Homo sapiens: one gene and its partner. The gene in region 1 interacts genetically with each later gene. Each region holds a gene or a part of one and is shown in the gene's direction. Other genes may lie near its edges.

What was found. A genetic interaction does not mean that the proteins touch.
Region 2: changes in CDKN1A (region 1) and CDC25A together harm fitness more than expected from each alone (negative genetic interaction), as found in Homo sapiens cells (one large-scale study listed by BioGRID).

What each region holds. Positions count from the first base shown.
Region 1 is NC_000006.12:36,681,714-36,684,772, forward strand, and holds part of CDKN1A (cyclin-dependent kinase inhibitor 1), read left to right. Parts: intron 1-2,383; coding exon of another isoform or gene 2,384-2,388; coding exon 2,389-2,833; coding exon of another isoform or gene 2,834-2,932; intron 2,933-3,059. UniProt on the Homo sapiens protein: Plays an important role in controlling cell cycle progression and DNA damage-induced G2 arrest. Involved in p53/TP53 mediated inhibition of cellular proliferation in response to DNA damage.
Region 2 is NC_000003.12:48,157,418-48,160,917, reverse strand, and holds part of CDC25A (M-phase inducer phosphatase 1), read left to right. Parts: intron 1-1,462; coding exon 1,463-1,574; intron 1,575-1,832; coding exon 1,833-1,973; 3' UTR 1,974-3,500. UniProt on the Homo sapiens protein: Tyrosine protein phosphatase which functions as a dosage-dependent inducer of mitotic progression. Directly dephosphorylates CDK1 and stimulates its kinase activity. Also dephosphorylates CDK2 in complex with cyclin-E, in vitro.

The sequences.
Region 1 (3,059 bases):
TCCCGAGTAGCTGGGACTACAGGTGCTGCCATCATGCCCGGCTAATTTTTTTTTGTATTTTTAGTAGAGACGGGGTTTCACCGTGTTAGCCAGGATGGTCTCAATCTCCTGACCTCGTGCTCCGCCCTCCTCGGCCTCCCAAAGTGCTGGGATTACAGGTGTGAGACACTGCACCCAACCACCCAGCTAATTTTTATTTATTTTTATTTTTAGTAGAGACAGGGTCTCAGCTAGTTGCCCAGGCTAGTCTTGGACCCTTGGGCTCAAATGATTCTCCCACCTCTGCCTCCCAGAGTATTAGGATTACAGGCATAAGCCACTGCCCCTGGCCTCCCCAAGTGATTGTGATGGGCCTCTCTGGTTAAGAAACCTCAAAATTAGAGAGGGAGTGGGGTTCAATACTACAGCACAGGACTCAGGGCAAACAGGCCTGGGTTCAGATCCTGGCTGTGCCACTTATGAACTGTGTGATGTTAGGCAAGTTACTTAACTTATCTGAGCCTTGGTTGCCTCTTCTGTAAAAAGGGAGCTAATAGATATCCACTTTTTAGGAGGATTGATATTTTTAAACTGCTTAGAACAGCCCCCAAACATAAAAATATATAAATAAATCCCAACTCATGCCTAGCAGAGGGTGGATAGAGGTTATTTGAGGGCTCTGTCCACTGTACTGGGTGACCCCTTTATGGGGCAGTGGCCTTTGGCCTTTTTAGCTGTATGACTCAGGGGCAAGTCTCATATCTCTTCCATCTCCTGCCCTTTAAACTTGGTGTGAAGTTACCAAGAGCCTCCTCTCCCAACCAGCTGGGACGTGAAACTGTGGGCTCCACTGATCACAAGCAGTGGGGTGAGGTGGGGTGGAGCAGATGTGGCATGTGTCCCGGGCTTCCTGCCTCATGAGGACTCAGCAGAGCTTTCACCCCCAGAAACTGCAAGTTGGGACTTGTCCCTAGGAAAATCCAGTTGCTGCCAAGGTCGTGCAGTCACTCAGCCCTGGAGTCAAGCCAGAGCAGGCAGGTAGGTGCCAGGGCTCCCTCATGGGCAAACTCACTCTCCGTTTTCCCTCTCCTGAAGGGGGAGGAGAGGAGCCAGGTAGACCAGCCACCTTTAATTTTCTTTTTGCCTGCAAAACGGTTTCCTTGGACACAGGCAACACGAGGCAGGGGCTGCCAGGTGTCTAGACTTCAGATCACCTGATGTGCCTGGCAGGATGTGGCTCAGCCTGGGAGAAATCATCCCTTGCGCTGCCCCGCCCGGCCCCTCCTTACCCCTAGGCCACCCGCCTGACGACATCCTTGGGAAAGGCCCTCAGCCTACAGCACCTGTCAGCTGCTGTCTGAAGGAGGTAGTTGGCAGGGGGAAGTGATAGGGGGGAGGCTCAGTAAAACTGAAGGCAGAGAGGAATAATCATACTTCTGTTTTCAATGCACTTCTCTATACGAAGTGCTGCTGGCACGTTACCTACATTAACTCAGTTAATTCTCATGTCTATCCTCTGAGACAGTCACTATTACTATCCCCATTTTATAGATGAGGAAACTAGAGCTCAGACAAGTTAAGTTGCTTGCCCAGGGTCACCTAGTAAAACCTGGACTCCAGCCCAGGTGATCTGGCTCCAGAGCCCTCCTGCTTAACCACCAGGATACAGCCTTTCATTCAGCTCTGTTCTGTCTGCCTTGCTGCATGGACTCTGTGATCAATTTCTTGAGTATGTGTCTGTAGCCATGCTCTTTAAACTTGTACATGGCCCCATTTATGGATGAGGAAACTGAGACCTAGAGACATTAAGTGGCTTTTTAAAGCTTACGTAGTAACTGGCAGAGCTAGGACCACAACCCGGGTGCTTTTTGCCCCAAAGTCCCGGGTACTTTTACTTGGCAGAGCAGGGTTACCCTACTTGGGGATCTGGGTCGGGGGACTTAGGAGGCTGGAGGAACTGTCAGACTGTTTCTTCTTTTGGGAATTGACCTTCTGGCCAGGGCTGCGATTAGGAAACTGCTGGACTCTGGCAATTCACACATATTTGGGGGGCATTCACACCCATGAGGGACACCTCTGGGGGGAAAACAAATTGATTTTAGCTGATAATACCTGGTGGCAAACAGGACCCTGGTCCTTGCTCTTGCAATAGACTTGCCTTTGTTGACATTAGCTTGCCCTTCAGTTGCCTGCTCTCCCAGTGACCTTGGTGTGCCAGGCTGGCTGAGCTCTGCTGGTGGGGGTCAGGCCTCCTGTGGGAAGGAAGCAGGAAGACCAGCTGGAAGGAGTGAGAGAGACCCTCTGGTAGGAAGACGTCACCTGAGGTGACACAGCAAAGCCCGGCCAGGTAACATAGTGTCTAATCTCCGCCGTGACCAGGGCCTTCCTTGTATCTCTGCTGCAGGCGCCATGTCAGAACCGGCTGGGGATGTCCGTCAGAACCCATGCGGCAGCAAGGCCTGCCGCCGCCTCTTCGGCCCAGTGGACAGCGAGCAGCTGAGCCGCGACTGTGATGCGCTAATGGCGGGCTGCATCCAGGAGGCCCGTGAGCGATGGAACTTCGACTTTGTCACCGAGACACCACTGGAGGGTGACTTCGCCTGGGAGCGTGTGCGGGGCCTTGGCCTGCCCAAGCTCTACCTTCCCACGGGGCCCCGGCGAGGCCGGGATGAGTTGGGAGGAGGCAGGCGGCCTGGCACCTCACCTGCTCTGCTGCAGGGGACAGCAGAGGAAGACCATGTGGACCTGTCACTGTCTTGTACCCTTGTGCCTCGCTCAGGGGAGCAGGCTGAAGGGTCCCCAGGTGGACCTGGAGACTCTCAGGGTCGAAAACGGCGGCAGACCAGCATGACAGGTGCGGACATGTGCACGGAAGGACTTTGTAAGGGACCAGGATTCTCAGAATCCATGGTCCAAGGGCTGACCTGTCTGGTCCTGGTCCAGCATGCTCCAGGTAGAAGGAAACAGGCCCAGAGAGGGGAAGCAACCTCCCTGAGGTCACACAGCAAGTAGGCAGCAAAGACCAACTAGCTAACATTTATTGGGAATGTTCATTATGCCAGGCCCTTTGCCAAGCTTCT
Region 2 (3,500 bases), on another chromosome or scaffold:
CTCCCAAAGTGCTGGAATTACAGGTGTGAGCCACCGCGCCCAGCCAAACTCCTTTTAACCACAGGCAAATGGTTTAAGCTACGTGCTGCAGAGGAAGCTGCTGCCCATCCCTCATGAGCAGCTAACAAAGGCCCCAAACCACTGAGCTTCAAGAGAAAATCAGCAGATACTCTTGGCTCTTGTGTACCAGATACCTTTCTAGATACTGAGGGAGAAGAGCAGTGAACAAAACAGACCAAAAAATCTCTGCCTTCATGGAACTTACATTTCGGAGTGGACAGGAGATCGAGACCAGCCTGGCCAACATGGTGAAATCCCGTCTCTACTAAAAATACAAAAATTAGCCAGGCGTGGTGGCGGACACCTGTAATCCCAGCTACTTTGGAGGCTGAGGCAGGAGCATCCCTTGAACCCAGGAGGCAGAGGTTGCAGTGAGCCGAGATCGCGCCAGTGCACTCCAGCCTGGGCGACAGAGTGAGACTCCATCTCAAAAAAAAAAAAAAAAAGGTGACTGGGTGCGGTGGCTAACTCCTGTAATCCCAACACTTTGGGAGGCCAAGGCAGGTGGATCACAAGGTCAAGAGGTCGAGACCATCCTGGCCAACATGGTGAAGCCCCATCTCTACTAAACATACAAAAATCAGCTGGGCGGTGGCACGCGCCTGTAGTCCCAGCTATTTGGGAGGCTGAGGCAGGAGAATTGCTTGAACCCGGGAGACGGAGATTGCAGTGAGCCTGAGGTCACGCCCTTGCACTCCAGCCTGGTGACAGAGTGAGATTCTGTCTCAGAAAAAAGAAGGTGCTTCAGAGGAAAATAAGGCCAGTGGTGGAGCTCCCAGGCAGGCTGGAGGAACAGTAGTGGGGCTGCAGGGGCTGGCGTGGGGTGAACAAGGGGCAGAGCAGCAGTAGGGGCCTGTAGAGCTGTAGGCCTCTGAAGGACTTGGGGCCTCGGGCTTTTTCACCAAGGGCGAGGCAGTAAGCAGCCATTGGCTGGATATTGAAGACCATTCAGTCCAAGTAGAGGATAGAAACAGGGCCCCGAGGCAGGAGCAAGTTCAGCCTCTTTAAAAGCCACAGAAAGAAACAAGCCCACTTATGTAGAAGGAGGTGAGTGAGGGAGCCTGGCTGAAGAGAAGGCTGGGGTGGAGAAAGCAAGGGGAAGCTGGCTCATATAGTGAAAACTTGCCACAAACTGTGGTGGTGAAGGTGCTGGGCAGGACTCAGATGCTAGGATTGTTGGAGAAAGGAAAATTGGGGAAGAGACCATCTACTGGCACTGGCTGTGAGTGCTGCTCATGTGGCCAGGAACTTGCAACTCAGCACTGATTGTTTCTAAGAATAAATGTCAAGTTGGGAAGATGTGTATAAGGGGGACTTAGACCACAACTGCTGCTTTGACTGCGTTGCCTTGTTGCTGTGCTGGAAAAGCTAACCCTGCTTTGGCCTTCCTTCCCCTGACTAGGTGCCGGTATGTGAGAGAGAGAGATCGCCTGGGTAATGAATACCCCAAACTCCACTACCCTGAGCTGTATGTCCTGAAGGGGGGATACAAGGAGTTCTTTATGAAATGCCAGGTAAGACTGGGGTTGTGGAGAGCATCTCTCCTCCCCTGCCCCCAGTGGTAGACTAATGGATCTGTCTGGTGGTCATGACTTTCTTTCCAGGGGTCGGGGGACAAGGTGGGTATCTGCTGAACCCAAAGAAAGCCCCTGTAGAACTGGCTCCCTAGGTCTGCCTGGCCGCTTTCAGCCTTGTAGCCCTAGGCAGAGAGGAAACCAGGTTGTGGGTGTGAGGCAGGTGTACCCTAACCTTATTCTCTCCTGTCCCCTCAGTCTTACTGTGAGCCCCCTAGCTACCGGCCCATGCACCACGAGGACTTTAAAGAAGACCTGAAGAAGTTCCGCACCAAGAGCCGGACCTGGGCAGGGGAGAAGAGCAAGAGGGAGATGTACAGTCGTCTGAAGAAGCTCTGAGGGCGGCAGGACCAGCCAGCAGCAGCCCAAGCTTCCCTCCATCCCCCTTTACCCTCTTTGCTGCAGAGAAACTTAAGCAAAGGGGACAGCTGTGTGACATTTGGAGAGGGGGCCTGGGACTTCCATGCCTTAAACCTACCTCCCACACTCCCAAGGTTGGAGCCCAGGGCATCTTGCTGGCTACGCCTCTTCTGTCCCTGTTAGACGTCCTCCGTCCATATCAGAACTGTGCCACAATGCAGTTCTGAGCACCGTGTCAAGCTGCTCTGAGCCACAGTGGGATGAACCAGCCGGGGCCTTATCGGGCTCCAGCCATCTCATGAGGGGAGAGGAGACGGAGGGGAGTAGAGAAGTTACACAGAAATGCTGCTGGCCAAATAGCAAAGACAACCTGGGAAGGAAAGGTCTTTGTGGGATAATCCATATGTTTAATTTATTCAACTTCATCAATCACTTTATTTTATTTTTTTTTCTAACTCCTGGAGACTTATTTTACTGCTTCATTAGGTTGAAATACTGCCATTCTAGGTAGGGTTTTATTATCCCAGGGACTACCTCGGCTTTTAATTTAAAAAAAAAAAAGAAGTGGGTAAGAAAATGCAAACCTGTTATAAGTTATCGGACAGAAAGCTAGGTGCTCTGTCACCCCCAGGAGGCGCTGTGGTACTGGGGCTGCTGCTATTTAAGCCAAGAACTGAGGTCCTGGTGAGAGCGTTGGACCCAGGCTTGGCTGCCTGACATAAGCTAAATCTCCCAGACCCACCACTGGCTACCGATATCTATTTGGTGGGAGGTGTGGCCCTGTTCTTCCTCACCCCAGTTCCATGACATTGGCTGGTATAGGAGCCACAGTCAGGAAAGCACTTGAGGCAGCATCTGTTGGGCCACCCCCGGCTCAGTGCTGGAATGTTGCAGTGTAGGTTTCCCAGGGAAGGGGGGTGGGGGTAGGTGGGCTCCACAGGATGGGGGAGGAGCATGTCCACTGAGTATCTTCCTTATGTTGCTGTGATATTGATAGCTTTTATTTTCTAATTTTTAAAAAATGGTCATATTATGAGTCAAAGAGTATCAAATCAGTGTTGGATGGACCACCCAAGGGTGAGGAGAGGGGCTGGAAGCCCTGGGCATTAGGAGAAGGGAGTGGGTGCTGGCATGGACATGACTGGATAGAATTTTCTCAGGAGGGAGCTTGGTGGATTTTGAAGGTAAAACTTTCTGGGTTTATCATGTTTTAATTTTAGAGACAGGGAGTGATGAATCATCACCGGTTGTCCCCTTATCTAACTCCATAAAAGTGGGAATTTCAAAAGAACACCTCATCCAAGGAGCTGGGGCAGACTTCATTGATTCTAGAGAGACCTGTTTCAGTGCCTACTCATCCCTGCCCTCTGGTGCCAGCCTCCTTACCATCACGGCTTCACTGAGGTGTAGGTGGGTTTTTCTTAAACAGGAGACAGTCTCTCCCCTCTTACCTCAACTTCTTGGGGTGGGAATCAGTGATACTGGAGATGGCTAGTTGCTGTGTTA